Regions from separate parts of the Homo sapiens genome. Here region 1 is linked to region 2. Evidence: fine-mapped QTL for protein levels in blood plasma. Region 2 holds a variant in brackets. A gene starts in the other region. All regions are shown on their forward strands.

Evidence for each region. A credible set is the group of variants that fine-mapping cannot tell apart. PIP is the chance, under the fine-mapping model, that this variant and not a neighbour inherited with it causes the effect. Protein levels are from antibody-based Olink assays in UK Biobank. Linkage for the fine-mapping came from a reference panel and not from the study's own genotypes, which makes the PIPs less certain.
Region 1: it holds the start of TNFRSF19, and the variant in region 2 is the best candidate, but not a certain one, in a credible set for the plasma level of the TNFRSF19 protein (UK Biobank, PIP 0.51).

Annotation. Positions count from the first base shown.
Region 1 is chr13:23,564,113-23,573,499 of GRCh38, forward strand. TNFRSF19 (TNF receptor superfamily member 19) reads left to right here and starts at 6,300. Exons shown (of 10, transcript NM_148957.4): 1 at 6,300-6,736. RefSeq lists enhancers at 3,711-4,223, 4,224-4,735.
Region 2 is chr3:198,025,096-198,034,704 of GRCh38, forward strand. All of the region lies in intron 15 of LMLN (leishmanolysin like peptidase), which reads left to right. Among named protein-coding and RNA genes, the nearest start is that of LMLN-AS1, 9.6 kb to the right of the region's middle. The variant T/A (reference allele first, on the strand shown) is at 4,242.

The DNA.
Region 1 (9,387 bases), not on the chromosome of region 2:
TGGAAATGCAAAATGTTGTTGTCACTCTGGAGGACAGTTTGGCAGTTTCTTTAAAAGTTAACTGCAGTCTTACCACATGATCCAGCAATCATGCTCCTAGGGAAAACTTATAGTCTCACAAAAACCTACACATGAATGTTTATAGAAGCTTCATTCATAATCACAAAAACTGGAAGCAACCAAGATGTCCTTCAATAGGTGAATGATAAACTATATACAGACAATGGAATACTTAACAATAAAAAGAAACGAGCTATCAAGTCACAGCAAGTCATAGAAGAAAGTTAAATGCATACTGCTAAGAAAGAAGCCAATCAGAAAAGACTACATACCATATAATTCTACCTATATAACATTATGGAAAAGGCAAAACTATAGAGACTTTAGAAACATCAGTGGTTGCCAGGGGCTCTAGGGGAAGGAGGGATGAATAGGTGGAGCACAGGGGATTTTTACAGCAGTGAAACTACTCTGTACAAAACTGTAATGGTGAACACATGTTATTATATATTAGGCAAAATCCATAGAAGTCTGGCTAGGTGCGGTGGCTCACATCAGCACTTTGGGAGGCCAAGGCAGGCAGATCACTTGAGGTCAGGAGTTCAAGACCATCCTGGCCAACATGGCAAAACCCCATCTCTACTAAAAATACAAAAATTAGCTGAGAGTGGTGGCTCACACCTGTAATCCCAGCTACTCGGGAGGCTGAGGCAGGAGAATCGCTTGAACCTGGGAGGCAGAGGTTGCAGTGAGCCAAGATCACGCCACTGCACTCCAGCCTGGGTGACAGAGCAAGACTCTATCTAAAAAAAAAAAAAAAAAAAAATCCATAGAAGTATATGCAGAAAGAATGAATTTTAGTGTAAACTATGAACTCTAGTTAATAATGCACCTATATTGATTCATTAATTATTACAAATATATCACAGTGATGCAAGATGCAAATACTAGGGGAAGCTGAGTGGGGCACAGGGAATGTATGGGAAATCTCTGTAGTAGCTGCTCAATCTTTCTGTCAATCTAAAACTGTTCTAAAAAGTAAAGTGTCTCTCTATATATAAATTGAGTGCTAGCATCAACAAAATGCAAATTTAAACTATCATAAGCTACTATTAGACTGCATTTAAATAGCTGAAATGACAAAAATTGACAATATCAAGTTTTGCCAAGGATGTAGAGCAAATGGAAATCTCCTATATTGCCAACAGGAATGTAAACTGGAACAAACACTTGAGACAACAATTTGGCAGTTTCTTTTTTTTTTTTTTTTTTTGAGACGGAGTCTCTCTCTGTTGCCCAGGCCGGAGTGCAGTGGCGCAATCTCGGCTCACTGCAACCTCCGCCTCATGGGTTCATGCCATTCTCCTGCCTCAGCCTCCCGAGTAGCTGGGACTACAGGCACCCGCCATCACGCTTAGCTAATTTTTTGTATTTTTAGTAGAGACGGGGTTTCACCGTGCCAGCCAGGATGGTCTTGATCTCCTGACCTTGTGATCCACCCACCTCGGCCTCCCAAAGTGCTGGGATTACAGGCATGAGCCACCACGCCCAGCCAGCAGTTTCTTTTGAAGTTAAACATACATACACCATATAATCCAGAAATTCTACTCCTACATATTTACTTAACAAAAATGAAAATATATATCCACACTAAGACTTGTACACAAGTATTATCAACAAATCCACTGAAAAGGATCTTCCTTAAAAAAGAGAATGATTTTATTCCTGTAAGCAGTTTGCAAACCAGGGAGACCCAGCCTTCAGTACAAAACAAAGATGCTCTCCCTGAGAACAGAGAGACAGGTTATCCTTTATAGAAAAAGCTCCCACCCAGATTCCCACTCTGGTCTGCTCTGCAAGTGAGAGGGATGCAAGTATGTTTGGTTTTGATTGGTCAATGCAAGTCACAAGTCTATTTGTTAGATCCAGAAGTCAAGATGAGACTTCCCAGCACCCATCAAATCAGGGAGCATAAATAGGAGCAGACAGCCATGAAAGTCCCCAAATCACGCGAGCCTGTGGTTTCTCAGAGAATGCAGAAGACGTTTGTGACCTGGCTCCATTCTGAATTTAGACCCAGTTAGCCACTCAGGATCCATTTGGAAGGATTGGCTCTTTCAGGTTCATGAAGTGTTCATGGCAGCTTTATTTACAGTAGCCAGAAACTGGGTTCTATCCCAGTTACCTTTAGTGACTTTCAGTCATACTCAGCTTCACTGAACAGTACCCCTGAACTGGCCCTTTAAGAAAAGGAAGGCGTCTTCTGCTCACGAGGTCGGAGGGAGTCCAGAAGGGCAGGGGGTGTCCACTGGAGCTGGGGGTGCTTTGTAGGAGGCAGATGCTGATGAGGAGAATGTAAGGCTTCAGAATATGTAGGAAAATGGGAGTTGTACCTCTTTGTAGTTTGTTGGATAGTGGCTTTGTATTAGTTTCTTGAGGCTGTGATAACAAAGTACCACAGACTTCAACAGCAGCAGTATGTCCTCGCACAGTTCTGGGGGCTGGAAGTCAGAGATCAAGGTATCAGCAGGGTTGGTTCCTTCTGAGGCTGTGAGGGACAGGTCTGTTCCCGGCCTCTTACCCTGGCTTGTAGATGGTCATCCTCATGTCCACACAGTGTTCTACCTATATGAGTGTCTGCCTCTTTATCTAAATCTCCCTTTTTATGGGGACATCAGTCATTCTGGGTTGGGGCCCACCCTAATGACCACATTTGAACTTGATTACCCCTGTAAAGACCCTATCTCCAGATAAGCTCATGTTTTGAGGTGCTGGGAGACAAGACATCAACATGGGAATTTAGGGGGATACAATCCAACCCATAACAGGCTTGAGCCTTTTTCTTTCTGTGATTATGTGGACCACAGTCCCAGATAGCAGCTACTGGTCCCAGATCATGTACAAGTGGTCCCAGCATTGTGAAGGACCTGAGGATGTCTGGGCTACCTTGGCTTTGAATAACCAGCCCAGGAGCTGTGTGAGAGCCTGTCCTGCCCCTTTAGAATACTGAAGTTTGAATTGGATCCCCTAGCTAAAATGTTGGCATTTTAATAGTTACAGAGAAAAGAAAGGAACCTTAGCTCTTCTGTTGAGGGTTTATTCTGCCTGATGCTTTCGAAATAAGTTTGTTATTTTGGCAACACTAATGAGGTAGGTGTTATCCCCTTCCTGCAGCTTAGGATTAAAAAGCTCAGTGGGACTAGGTAGCCTTCGTCCACACTGCCTAAGCTGTTATTCAAGTACAGGTAGTAAGAGGGATTTGAACATAGGCCTTTCTGACTCCAGCATCCGTGTTCTTTTCATAACCATGAGCTATTTCATTTTCTAAAAAGTGTTCAGTTGAAACAAATGCAGAAATTATTCCTCTCAATGTATGTAATAGATCTGTGTTTATCTGATCTAATCCAGGATATATCCTCTGAACAGAAAAGTTAGAAAAGACGGCATTAGAAAAGACATGCAGACAACTCAAAAAACTATGAAACTTTATGGGGAAAATGTGTTATCACCTGATCTATATCTTAAAATGGTGAGAATTCATGGCATCCACCTGTCAAGATAAAGGAGCAAAGGAACCACGCTCCAAGTTTTGGGAAGAAAATAGCACATGGTGGCGACTGGGGGTGACATGAGACCCCACTCCCCATCAGGAATCTCAGGCAGCCCCTCCCTTCTTGGATATGAACAACTGAAGTTTTCTCAATCATTTATTTTATTTTTTAACTGATTAATAATAATTATACATATCCCTGGGCACCTAGTGACATTTCTATACCTATAAGGTATAGTGATCAGATCAGGGTAACTGGCATGCCCGTCATCTCAAACACTGACCACTTCTTTTAAAGTGTAGCCTGGAGCTCCCCACTGTGGATCCAATGGCTGCCACAACCACTTTGCAGAACCAGGTCGCTGAAAGGCAGCTTGACAAAAAGACTAAGATGAGCCAAGTGTACTGCAACATGGCACAGGAACCATTGATCAAATGCTGTAACTTGGTGTCATGACAACGGACAATGATGTCGAGTGGAGTGCTGGATCTCTTATCACCACTGTATCACACTGATTTAATCACACTAATCTAAGCTTCTTGAAGGGGAAAGAGAAAAGCTTTGTAGTAGCTCCCCTTCCTGGTGCTGTTCAGAAACAACAATGGTGCAGGCCACACCTCACAACGAAGGGGGCTCGGCTGGCTGGGCACAGTGCTAAATGAGCCGCAGGTCAAGAGGTCACTCCTGCAGCCAGGCCGACCTTTAGCCACACTCTGGTCCAGGCGACAGATGGGGCCCTAGCCTCAGTCCCCTTTCATCTCACATATGGGGAGTTCTTGGCCACAAGAGGACCAATTCAAAATAATATCCAGTGACTTGGTGAATAAACTCTTCCACTGGAGATGGTATTGCATTGTTGGATGTATCTTGAACTACAAAGCTTGCTTGGGGAGATTTGTATAAATTGAAGATCATTTGATTGGTTTTCATTCAAGTCCCTGCTTTCAAGTGCCTCCTGTATGTTTTTCAGTGGAACACAAGAACCCGAATTCAGTCCTTCACCTATTTCTACTGGTGTTGAAATCTATAAAGACATAAAATCTACTTGCTTAGCCAATGAGCCTTACAGAGTGTCTAGTTGCTCTGATTTAATATATCAGTGTATCGGGAAACTTTAATCCTGAGTGCAGGCTGTTGGCATATGGATTCCATGCTGGTGGTAGGTTTGGACTACCTCAGAAAAGAAATGGGCACATGCCTTCTTGTAAATATTTTGTCTTTGTAAATATTTTCTTTGTATTCATGGGTTCAAGATGCCCAGGAAACGTATGTGAAGCCCAGATGTCACAGGAATTTTCCTGGTCTGCTTTAAGGAAGTCCTTAAGCATCACACCTGCCAGTTCAAATACTATTTGAGCCCTGTGCATTTTTGAGAAATGATGTATAAGTAGAAAAATTATACAAGAAACATGGAAAAATCAACAGGACTATTTAAATGTTATACAGAACTTATGAACAGTTCAAACTAAATATTTTGCTATTAAAATTATTCAAGAATCATAGAAATCTGGAAATAAACACTTCATAAATAACGTTTTCAAATATCGCGTCAGGAAAAATTAGACAAAACCAGTTAAGGAGGGAAGTTACATTGAAAAAGACTGAGTTCTACTATCCCCTAAGTTTTGCAAAAATATTTTTAACTTACTTTCTAAAAGTTAGTGAGTTTCCATTATAAAATAGAAAAATTGTCTTCATTCCATGAAAGAACTGTCTGAAAATCAGAAAAGCACCATATCCTGGATTTCAAGGAAGATGAAACTTCTTCTTATCTTCTATTTTACTAAATACTCAAAATAAAATAATCATATTGTATTGAATCTGACATTGTTAAGGAAAATAGCTTAAAATTTTTAAATAATGAGCAATATATTTAATTTTAAAATACGAAGAATTAGGCTAAGGTGGTAATTTTTTAGTGAGTTGAAAGTCCAAACTATGAGTTCGGAAGAAACAGCCCTAAAAGGCAAATAACATGGCTTTGGAATAATCACAGGGCAAATGCTTTGTTCTACATAATTCTTCTTTTGTGAATTTTAAAATGCTCAACAAGTATTAATGAAATATGTCTAAGAAGTAGATATTGCTTTAAAATCTAATTTCCAGAGTCCCGAACTAAGGCAAAGATTGAGATTAAGTCTCCGCCCAAAGTCTTAAGTGAGCCAGTGGAAGATGGCAGTTTATTCATGAATTGTTGGTTATCTGCTGCTTAACTACTTAACACAACCCGGTTTGATTGGTAATCAGATCCTAATAATGTATGTTTCAAAGAAAGGGCAGTTTCCTTAAAATCCTTAAAGACTTGTCACTTTGAAAACTGGAATCAAAATGTGAAAATGTTATCGGTCCATCTGGCAGTGTCCTTGGGTGTTTTTTAGAGTGGTCTCATAGTGCTATTTAACTATGCTGAATATTTGACACCCAGTCTCTGTAGGAAATTGTGATTTTTATCAGCGAAGAGGCAATTAAATGCTGTCATTTGGCACGTCCATCCATCAGGGATCTTATCACCCAAGAAGCATCCAGCAGCAGTTGCTGTCCTTTCCAGCTGGCAGACAGATAACAGAAACTGTCCTGTGTGAGGCACAATAGTCTAACATGATTAGAAATCAGCCAAACTCTGGCTTCTCTTGAGCTATACTCCCCCACAGGCTGAATTATAGCTCTCCTACCAGTCCCACGGCGCTGAATGATGTCATGGGATCTGCAGTTCAGCGAGATGAAAGGGATAAAGCAGAACCCGCTGGCACTAGGAAAAGCTTCCAACACACAGTCCACAACACAGCTTGGGAACCAAAAAAGCTACAGATCCAGCCACTCAGCCCAAGCATGGGAGAACTACCAGCATTGCCTCATTGCAAAAAAGAGGAGGAAAACAACGTGATCCATGTTTAACAAAAGAGTCTGTGGACTAGGAGGTGGGAGGGTAACTACCTGCTGAAAGTGAACTTTCTTTGATATCCATGCATATATATAAACTCAGCCCTGCCTTTGATGTTCAGCAACTGATTCACTGATCAGATTACAGGCATTTCATCTCCCTGCTCGTCTGCCTTTGATCTGCATGGTTAATTTTATTTTCCTGGATTTGAAGTTTCGTCTGGGCTTGTGCTGACATACATTTTTGGGAAGGTAGAAGCATTTGGCACAGAAGTGCTGCCAGGAGAAACTAAGTTGCTGAACGGGTAAGTACTGCAAAGAGCTCAGCATGTTGCAGGTACTCTGTTTTAAGCTTTGTTATAGCTTTCACTGCATTTTTCGCATGTGTTCTGAGAAAAGAATGGTTTTAATTAATTTTTTAGAAAGCATTTATACAGCTGAATACTACATGATGCTGAATGTGTGTATCAGAGTAACTATGGAACTTGATGTAATTTTTAGTAGTTTGTACAAGAGGGTTTGCAGTCTGTCATACAAATTTTACTTGGAAATGAGTTGTACAAACAGGACAAAACAGAACAGCGCTCACTTTAGCATGCAACTGGTACTTCAACCCCTGAGATCTGTGAGCTATAATTGCTCTAAGTATTTACAGGTTACCTTATTTAGTAAACAGTCAGTGCAACTTTGCTTGTTGAAAATGCTTTCTTTGTTTTCTTATATAAAAGAGTAAAATGTATCTCTGGCAATACTGTTTCTTTAGTTTATTTATTCTCTCACTTCCAAGATGTAAATCTATCAAATACACTTCCTTATGCAGTTTGTACACTCAAGGGAATCACTGAAAAACCATCAAGTATGATTAAAGACTTTTATGTGTAAAACTGAAGAATTTAAAAACAGTGAGGATAAAGTTGCACTAAGTTTGGCTAAAAATACTCCAGTGATTTTCTATAACCTTTGGAAATAGCATAAGCCTTATTTACAGAAACATTCACAAGGTTAATATTCCTAAATTAACATTTACTTTACATTTATAGTGACAGCTGTTTTAAGTCAAAATTTGCCAACTGTTTATGAAAACTATCTGAGTAATCAACAGTTATTATGTTACATAAAGTATCTTAGTCACATTTTCACTTTAGCTAATGCCCAACATGACAAAACCAAATTATATTGCTGTACCGAATTTGAAAGTTAACTGTTATTTTTTTGTCAGTTCATGATACACACACACTCACGCTCACACACACACACAGTAAAATCTTTACAGTGAAATATAAAAACTAAATACAATGGAAAAGTAACACTGTTACTTTGTTCGCGATGTTTTTTTTTTTAATGTTCTAGTCCTAAATTTATCTGGGCAAAATATTTAATTATTATCACAAGTCTATTTGATGCTAGCTGAACCATAAAGAAACCATAAGTGATAAGACCAGTTATCCTTTAGTCTGAAATTCTGATGAAACAGGAAAGGTCTAATGAGTCTCATTTCATAAGTAATTAATTTTTCACAGCCAATTAATTAAATTACTTTCTACACTTTCCTCTTGATACTAGAAGGGTAATTAGCATTGTTTATTTAATTTTAAAACTTTGCTAGTTGTTAAGTGGAGGTTATTTAAAGCCATGCTAAACTGATTATATTTTTAAAGTGTGTCATTAATAACTTAATCTTAAAGATTTAACTGCTGTTTTTAGTCATGCCAGGAGAGGCATTTGCTTTTTTTTTCTAAGAGTACAACAAATCATGTTCACAATATCCTGCAATATCGGTTTAGTTTGATTTTTTTTTAATTTGTTTGCTTAAAATCTTCCTTTTAATCACAAAAGTGGTATTAATGTTCACATTCAGATAAAGAAAATTAGCCTTTTAAAACAATGACTGGAGATGGTGCCTAAAGAAATAGTGTGTCTGAAACTTGCTCATTTAGTTCAGATTTGGATTTTAAAATTTTTAAAATGACTGTTTATCCTGCTACTAGGATCATTTTAACAAATACAGGCTCTCCTCAGCACAAAACAAAGGGGAGAATTAGCAATTATCTGATTAATTTAGGCTTTGTAGAAAACTAGCTTGGGCAAGTCAAGTCCTTGAAAATCCACTTCAGTGTTTGAATTAATTCAGTTAATTGTTTACTTCTAGTGTCATTGTTGAGAAATGAAATAGAGTGTATTTGATTTTAAAATAAAGATGGTTGTATCTGAAGGTACAGGTACAGTCTCAAAAGGCATTTCCTAATTAATTGCCACAAAATGACTTTGGCAGATATAGTCCTATTACTTCTACTGAACAAAACCCTTATGTGACATTTTTCAAAGCACTTTCCTATCTGTTGCTTCAATGGCAGCTTTGTTACTACAGAAAGTCCAAGTCTTCAAAAGACTTTTATGTTGAGTCCTGATACTGTCACCAATTAGCTATATGACCTCAAGAGAGTTTCCTCATGTGTGAAGTGAGGGAGTTGATCACATCATCTTTATGAAATAAGCAGAATTGGAATTTTTATGGCCATTTTACAGATGAGGAAACTGAGGCTATAGAAAACGAATGTCCCTATCTTAACAAGGTCACATGGCTGATTTTCCCAGTTCTAGTCCAATGTTCTTTCCAGTCTACCATGCAGGGTCTGCTTTCCAACAACTGCTTAAACAAATGCACTCTGTAGCTCATCAAAGAACAATATTAGTTTGAAAAATAAAGACAGCCACTTCCTATTGTAGTGCATTTTTTTTTTGTTTCCATGATAGATATGTCAGTCAGCTGGATTCGTCTGATTATTTTCCAACTGTTCCTTCTACTTCTGGACTTCTAAGCTGTCTAAACACAGTAGCTGCTACCCATAATTTAACATAATTTAACACGTAAAATAATTTTCACAAAAAGTTTAATGCATCAATGTGATGTGGAATTATATATGTATTTGTGTGTTTGCCTCTGTGTGTGTGTGTA
Region 2 (9,609 bases):
TGTCAATTTTATTTCAAAAGGTCTGAGGACCTCATGGGTTATAAGAATTAGTAAATCAGGCTGGACGTGGTGGCTCACGCCTGTAATCCCAGCACTTTGGGAGGCTGAGCCAGGAGGATTGCTTGAGCCCAGGATTCGAGACCATCCTAGGCAACAAAGCGAGACCCTGTCTCCAAAAAATAAAGGAAAAAGAATAAATCAGTTGCTGATTAATAATAGAGTGTTTTTTCCTTTGTAATTAGAAATCCAAAAAGGGCAAACTACAATTTTTTTTCCTTTTTCTTTTTCTTTTTTTTGAGACAAGGTCTTGCTCTGTCAGCTAGGCTGGAGTGCTGCTGCAGTCACGGCTCATTATATCCTCTACCTCCTGGGTTCAAGCGACCTTCCCACCTCAGCCTCCTGAGGAGCTGGGACTACAGTGTGCACCACACACCCGACTAAGTGTTTGATTTTTTGTAGAGAAGAGGTCTCACTATGTTGCCCAGGCTAGATTAGAACTTCGGGGCCCAAGCAATCCTCTTGCCTTGGCCTCCCAAAGTACTGGGATTATAGATGGCGGCCACCATGCCTCGCCTACTATTTCCTTAATTATCTTATTTGCACATCTGATATTATATGACATCACCTTATTAAGGACTTATAAAGATGTAGCCATTCTGTGACTTAGGAGCATCCAATGGAATGAATCTTCTGCACCCTACAAATGGATGTCAGGGAGGACAGCGTAAGCCTGAGAAATGCAGAATCAGCATTCCTGTGCCATTTCAGCTGCAAGAGCTAAACGGACCTTTAGAACTGGAAATTTAACTCTTATCATTAGTTACTTATCAAATTAACGTTTTTTTTGGTAACTGCTTTTCTTCTTTTCTGTTTTTTTTTGAGACAGGGTTTTGCTCTGTCACCCAGGCTAGAGACAATGGTGCGATCACGCTCACTGCAGCCACGAACTCCCAGGCTCAGGCGATTCTCCCACCTCAGCCATCTGAGAAGCTGGGACTACAGGTGCACACCACCACACCTGGCTGATTTTTCTTATTTTTTGTAGAGACAGGCTTTTGCCATGCTACTCAGGCTGGTCTTGAACTCCTGGGTTCATGTGATTCACCTGCCTCAGCCTCCCAAAGTGCTGGGACTACAGACATGAGCCACTTTGCCTGACCTGGTAATAGCACTATCAAGATATATTTTACATACCATACAATTTATGTAAAATTAACTTTTTTTTTCATTTTTCCTCTTTTGAGACAGGGTCTTACTCTGTCACCCAGGCTGGAGTGCAGTGGTGCGATCTCAGCTCTCTGCAACCTCCACCTCCCGGTTCCAGAGATTCTTGTGCCTCAGCCTCCTGCACAGCTGGAATCACAGGCATGCGCCACCATACCCAGCTAATTTTTGTATTTTTAGTACAAAAATTGACCAGGCTGGTCTCAAACTCCTGGCCTAAACTGATCCTCCTGCCTCAGCCTCCCAAAGTGCTGGGATTATAAGCATGAGCCACCAGTCCTGGCCGAATATTTCTTTTCTTTCTGTAACAAGATATTCTAAGCTCACTTTGTTCTTTGTCTACCCCTGACGTGGAATTAACCGTTTCTCCAGAGGCCCCTAGTTACTTTTAATGGAGTATGGTGTTTAGAGACTAAGATCTGGGCGGTAATTATACTGTTGATTGCTTTTGGTGGAGTGTTTGGTGTTAGAGACTAAGATCTGGGCGCTAATTATACTGTTCATTGCTTTTAGTGGAGTGTGGTGTTAGAGACTAAGATCTGGGTGGTAATTATACTGTTGATTGTCATTGATAATAACATTTGGGAATTGGGAATACCAGCTCATCAGGCCCTCTTAGTAAGGTAGGAAATGTATGTATATGTATCAGTACACTCTCCTGTGAGTGCGTGTGTGTGTGTGTAAGTAATCATGAGTTTGCATCAGTAAGGTTGGTTTGATTCCATCGGTTGGAGACCTTGTCTGATACCAAAGCATTTATTTTAGTTTTCCACCTTTTCACATATGTACTTCCTTCACCAACAGTGAGAAGTCCAGCTGCTGTCATCTCAGCATGTTTACTCATCTGATCTATCCACATCCCGTCCACTTTCTCCCACTCCCATTACCCTCGTCACCCGGCCAACTCTGCGTGACCTCCCGGTCACACACCTCCCCCACCCCTCCAAACAGATCACCTACCTTGCCTCACTTAACGGCTTTAGACGTAATTGCTTTTGAGGAAGGGGAAAGGAGAAAGGGAGGGATCACTGGGCTTTTTTTTCTTAAAATTGTGGCAAAATATATATAACATAAACATTTCCATTTTAACTGTTTTTACGTGTATAGTTAAGTGGCACTAAATACATTCACGTTGTCATGCACATTGCCACCGAGCGTCTCAGAAACTCTGTACTCACTAAACAATCCCTCCCTCTTCCTCCTCCCCCAGCCCTGACAGCCTCTATTCTACGTCCTCTCTCTGTGGATTTGCCTAATCTAGATAGTCCTTATAAGTAGAATCATACCATGTTTGTCCTTTTGTACCTGACTCCTTTTACTTAGCGTGGCATTCTCAGGGTTCATCCACATTGTGCCATGTATCAGAACAGTATTCCTTACGGTGTTCCTTTATGTCTCAATAACACTCCATTGTATGGATCTGTCACGTTTTGAATCAGTTGATGGACACTTAGGTCGTTTGTGTCCACCTCTTGGCTATTGGAGTCTTGCTGCAGCGAACACTGGCTTCCGCGTATCTGTCTGAGTCCCTATTTTCAGTCTACTCAGCAGTAGAATTGCTGTATCATATGGCAATTCTATGTTTAGCTTTTTTAGGAACTACCAAACTAGGTTTTTTGTTGTTGTTGTTGAGGGGTTTTTGGTGTTATTTTGAGGTTTCTTTTTTATTATTATTAATAGACTTTATTTTTTAGAGCAATTTTAGGTTCACAACAAATTTAAGTGGAAGGTACAGAGAGTTCCCATATACCCCTGCTCCACACACTCGTGGCCTTCCGCACCGTCAGCATCCTGTACCACAGAGGCATTTTTGGTACAATCGATGAACCCACATCATCATCCAAAGTCCATGTTCACATTAGGGTTCACTCTGGGTGTTTTCAATGAACCGACATCATCATCCGAAGTCCATGTTCACATTAGGGTTCACTCTGGGTGTTTCGATGAACCGACATCATCATCCGAAGTCCATGTTCACATTAGGGTTCACTCTGGGTGTTCTACATTCTGTGGGCTTTGACACCTGTAGGATATTCGTCCATAAGATAAATGAGTTGTTGAAATGGACTTTGTTATAAGTTAAAGATTGGCTATCTGTGGCTAAATAATTGCTGAGACTAACATAAATAAGAATAAATGAAATAAAAAGTGGGATGAAATACTTCAGGTGAAAGTTCAAAGGGAAACTGTATTATCTCTGTACAAAAGAGACCTTTAAGCGTGTGTTTTCATGTCAACCCTTTGTGTTCTTAACATGTTTTTCCCTGATGAAACTGAGATCATGGACCTTATCATATCACCTTTTGTGCTGATGGCACCTTTTAATATAAATTTTTAAGTAATTTATATATTGATTAAATAAGTCAGCAATTCACATGGTGAAAAATTCAAAAGATGCAAAAGAATGTACAGGGTACAGGAAAAGCCTTTCCCAGCCCCGTCTTTTAGTCACTCACTTCTCCCTTCGGAGGGAAGTAATATTACCAGTTTCTTGCATCCTTCTAAAGATAAACTCTGTGCAGGCACAAATTTATATTTTTGTTTCATTTTTTACACCAATAGTATCAAGTTACACATACTGTTCTGTGGTGTGTATTAAAGAGTCGTTCTTAGTATCATCTTACATCATTCCAGCCCCATGTCTGAACTGGCTGTGGACGTCTCAAGTACATTTGGTTGTACTTTGATCATTCTGAATTCAGTTCCTCCAAAATCCAGTTTAGGAGCCCTCTCTCAACAACGCTGCATTTCGGCTGTGTTGCTTCCAGCACTGGTCCCAGTCTCTCTAATTAGAAACCAGAATGATCATTTTCTACTCTCTGTTCTATAAAGACGGTCAATACAGACTAAGTCTTTAGATTACTCTCCTATTGAAATCTCTTATATCTATTTTATTTTAGGTTTACCTTCATAGTTCAAGCCATTATCACTTCACAGTTTCCTAACTAATTTCCCTCCTCTCATCTTACTTCCATGACCACGTTGATCCTTTTAAAATTTTAGTTTTGATCAAACTT[T/A]TACATGCAAATAGTTTGAAACAAATTTGTTGTCTGCTTCCAAAAAACTACAGCCTCAGGCCAGGCGCTGTGACTCATGCCTGTAATCCCAGCACTTTGGTTGGCTGAGGCTAACACTTGAGGTCAGGAGTTCGAGATCAGCCCAGGCAACATGGTGAAACCCTGTCTCTACTAAAAATACAAAAATTAGCCGGGCATGGTGGCCGCCTGCCTGTGATCCCAGATATTCAGGTGGCTGAGGCATGAGAATCGCTTGAACCTGGGAGATGGAGGTTGCAGTGAGCCAAGATCGCACCACTGCACTCCAGCCCGGGCAATGGAGTGAGACTACATGTAAAAACAAACAAACAAACAGAAAAACACACAAAAAACTAGAGCCTCTGTTATTACTTCCCTAATGTTTATTACTTCTTCCCAGAGTCTTCACTTTCAATTCTTAGTTGTTGTTTTGTTGGGGGTGGAGGAGTCAGGGGAGACTTACTATTTGCTTTCTTATTTTTTTTTATTATTATTACTTTTTTGAGATAGATTCTTGTTCTGTCTCCCAGGCTGGAGTGCAGGTGGCATGATCCCTCGGCTCACTGCAACCTCCGCTTCCCAGGTTCAAGTGATTCTCCTGCCTCAGCCTCCCAAGTAGCTGGGATTATAGGCGCCCGCCACCATGCCTAGCTGTTTTTTTTTATTTTTAGTAGAGACAGGGTTTCACCATGTTGGCCAGGCTGGTCTCAAAATCCTGACCTCAAGTGATCTGCCTGCCTGGGCCTCCCAAAGTGCTGGGATTACAGGCGTGAGCCACTGCACCTGGCCTGCTTTTTTATTTTTAAAAAGCTTATATTATTCTTTCATAAGGTTTGAATTTCAAATGTTAGCTGTTGACTTTGGAAAATAAGAATTTAGTTGGTTCGCCTCGTCCTCTTGCTGTGTTCACTTCCTCTTTCCCCATCGTACACTTCTTGTTTCCCATCCTCCCAGTGGTGATTATGGATAAATACGTATTCACTGTTTACATTACCAGGACTATGCAGACGTGGCGCCTGGTAGCATGCAATCATTACTTCCCCGTTCTCCCCAGTATTTCGTTTTCTCTGGATTTAAGACCTTGTTTTTTTGCAATTAGTTTTCTTTGTATTTAGCACTAATTCAATTCTAAGCTCTTCTCCCAGTTGGGCTCATCTCCTTTCAGTAGAACCAGATACCTGAGGTATTCTATCCATTTCATCTTGAGGAAATCTCTTCTGGACATTTCTGGCCTGTGCTAATCTCGACTATATAATCCTTATGTTGGCAGCACAGCTGGCATCTTGGGATCTCGAGTCAGGATCATCCTGGAGGTCCCTCTGGTCCCTCTGTCTCTCTCATATTGGATCCCCTCCTTCATGGATTTTGTGTCATATTCTTTTTTGGATTTTTTTTATTTTAATGGAACATATCTTCTAGTGGAGATTTGAGGAGTATGTGACGGAGAACAATGTTGAGACTTGCATGTCTGAAAGCATCACTGTTCCACTGTGACGCCTGCTGACAGCGTGGGAAGGCGGGACTTCATCTCTGCCCTCAGGGTCTTCAGCTAGTTTCCACCGTGATGTGACGCCTGCTGACAGCGTGGGAAGGCGGGACCTCACCTCTGCCCTCAGGGTCCTCAGCTAGTTTCCACCGTGACGCCTGCTGACAGCGTGGGAAGGCGGGACCTCACCTCTGCCCTCAGGGTCCTCAGCTAGGCCTGAGAATGAAATAGGCATAAGCCCGATGAACAGGAGGAAAACATACACATTTATTTAATCTAAGTTTTACATGACACAGGAGCCCACATGAGTAAATGAAAACTCAAAGAAGTGTGAAACCTATATACTTTTATACTACATTGAACAAAGGGAGACAGTTACAGAAAAGTAAAATGTATGCGGAGGCTAAAGGAAGATAAGAATTATTTTAAGAAGGTCTGTTTGTACCAAATTCTTTGGCTTTGACTCCCCATATTGGTGATAAAAATGTTTGTTTTCTCCTGGAAAAGGAAGGGTATTATTCATGTGGGAGTTGTGTCTTCTGCTTTCAGGAGGAAGGGGGATGTCAGAACAGTCTTGCTGGGTCTGCTGTGTTGAAGTCCCTTTAGCTGGAAACCTTTGTGCCAAAACAGCACATTTTGGGGTGGCGTGTTCTGCCGTCCTTCAATAGCTTGGGTGGGTATAGCTTTATTTTTGAAAATTATTTTCCTAATGGATGATTGGGTGCAGGAAAAAAAGAAAGAAAATTATTTTCCATCAGAATTCTGAAAGCATTTTTCCTTTGTGTGCTGACTGTCAGTGTCATTCTGAGTTTCAATTGCCAGAATCTTTTTTCTTTCTTCTCTGGAAGCTGTAAATTCTTAATTTTAACTTCGCATACCACATCCTCATCTGCCACAAGCCCCAGTATTCCAAAATTTAATGGGTTGATTCTATTTTTGGTGATCATTAACAGCCTGTTCATATTCAAGAAGTGACTGGAGCCTGGCACAGTGGCTCACACCTGTAATCACAGCACTTTGGGAGCCCGAGACAGGCGGATCACTTGAGGTCAAGAGTTTGAAAGCAGCCTGGCCAACATGATGAAACCCCTCATCTACTAAAAATACAAAAATTAGCCCGGTGTGGTGGTGGGCGCCTGTAATTCCAGCTACACAGGAGGCTGAGGCATGAGAATCACTTGAACCCAGGAGGTGGAGGTTGCAGTGAGCTGAGATGACACTATTGTACCACAGCCTGGGCGACAGAGTGAGACTCTGACTCAAAAAAAAAAAAAAAAGAAAAGAAAAGTGCCTGGAAGCCAGTTTGGAAGCTCTGAGCACACACATAGGGCTTGTTGACTGTGGTCTCCCTATGGGGCTCCTTTCTTACAAAACCTTTGATGTCCGTCCTTTTGACGGGTCAGATTGGTCAGAGAAACTGCCAGTGACCCGCCTAAGTTTATATGCTGTCAGAGTTCTAGGAAGGAAGTCGATTTTGAATGCTTTAACCTGTAAACTTCGAGTCCTTATTTTCATGATGGCATCCCAGCTCTCTGCTGTACTTAGTTTTCCCCAGAACAGAAAAACTCTGTTTTACCCTTTCCAAAAAATAAATCTCCAGTATGCTGGTGTATTAGTCCATTTTGCGTTGCTGTAAAGGAGTATCTGAGGCTGGGTAATTTATAAAGAAAAGAGGTTAATTTTGGCTTACAGTTCTGCAGACTACAGGAAGCATAAGTGCTGTCATCGGCTTCTGGTGACGGCTCAGGAAGCTTACAGTCATGGCGGAAGGCAGAGTGGGGGCAGGCTTATCACATAGAGCGGGAACGAGAGAGGAGGGAGCTCCCGACCTCTTGAACAAGCAGATCTCTGGGGAACTTATTCCTGTGGGGAGGGCACCAAGCTATTCATGAGGGATCCATCCCCATGACCCAGACACCTCTCACTAGGCCCCACATCCAACACTGGGAATCATATTTCAACAGAAGATTTGGACAAATACCCAAACTATATCAGCTGGGTTCGGAACGAACTGGTCCAGCTGGTCGCAGTGAGGGAGAGGAATGCTGGCGTCTGTCTCTGAAACAGACGTTTGTCTAATCCTTTTGATTGTAGCTCTTACTTCTTGGTACCAGGTGTGGCTGTGGCAGTCCTGAGCCCTCTTGTGTTCTGCAGATCAGTTTCTTCCTGGCTCTTCCTGTTGCTGGATTTTGATCCAGCTTTCCTGAGTCTGTTATGTCTGCTGCTACCTGTACATCTACCCTCCTGCCCACACTTAATTCCCAGAATTCCACAATGAGAATACTTCAACTTCAGCAAGGGAGTTTTCCTCTTGTCCTATCAACACTCTCATATAATTCTCATCTCTAAGCCATGTGCATTCTGCTTCCCAACCTGTAACATCTGCCCGGCAGTAGTCCAAATCCTGTGTACATCCTTAGGATGCAAATGCTGTCTTCCATGAAAGTTTCTAATATTTGTTCTTGTTTCTACCATTTATTGACTCTTAATCATAAAATAGTCTGGTACTGTTCATTTTTTGCTTTTTCTTCTAATTTCAAAATACAGTTAGTATTTTATAAAAAAAATTATTATTTTTATTATCTTTTTTTTTTGAGATGGAGTCTCACTCTGTCACCCAGGCTGGAGTGCAGTGATGGGATCTCAGCTCACTGCAACCTCGGCCTCCTGGGTTCAAGTGATTCTTATGCCTCAGCCACTCGAGTAGCCCACCATTACGCCTGGCTAATTTTTGTATTTTTAGTAGAGACGGGGTTTCACCAGGTTGGCCAGGCTGGTCTCGAACTCCTGACCTCAGGTGATCCACCTGCCTTGGTGTCCCACAGTGCTGGGATTACAGGCATGAGCCGCTGTGCCCGGCTGAAAAAAATTTTTATATCCTACTCCTCTTTCCTCAATTGAAACTGCTAGAGGGCAGGCACTGTATTGTGTACTTTTTTAGTGTCCTTTTCAGCGCCAAGCACGGCGCTTGATCAAGTCTCGCTTTAAAGAATAATGATGTTGCACTGTAGCTGTGGTGATGCTTACTTGATGTGGATCACGGAGTGACAGAGAAGAGGTCACACTTCATTGTTTGTTTTTGTGATATCTTAAAACAAATGTTCAAAAGAGTGATATATTTCAACTTAACTGATGATAGAGTTATTTCAAAATGACTTCAAATATACTTTTGAAATTATCTTTGGTAGTTTAATAGTCACCTAAGGAAATCAATCTTAGTAATTTTGTGTCACACGTTGTCTTAACCAGGTTAGTCAACTACCTTTGCTGGACTTGCTTCTGGGCAACCTTGGGCTATTTCCAAAAATTATATCTACTTGCTACTTAAAAATTTGCTACCATCAGACAGGTTCAGAAGCATGCACTGACTTTGAAGATAGGTCCAAGAGAGAAGTTTCAGAAGTGTTTAAAGGGAAGTAGCATAATTGAATGTGAAGTCTTTGTAGAAAACAACTTTGAGGTTTTTTTTAAAATAGTTAAAATTTTTGGCTGGGTGCGGTGGCTCACGCCTGTAATCCTAGCACTTTGGGAGGCCGAGGCGGGCAGATCACCTGAGGTCAGGAGTTCAAGACCAGCCTGGCCAACATGGTGAAACCCCATCTCTACTAAAAATACAAAAATTTAGCTGGGTGTGGTAGCACAGGCCTGTAGTCCCAGCTACTTGGGAGGCTTAGGCACGAGAATTGCTTGAACCCATGAGGCAGAGGTTGCAGTGAGCCAAGATCATGCCACTGCACTCCAGCCTGGGCAACAGAGTGAGACTTGGTCTAAAAAAAATAAATAAATTAAAATTTTAAAAAATTACTATTTCTAAATGTTTTAAAAGTTAGCATTAATGTGTTTTCTTTTGCTTTTAAAAACTGA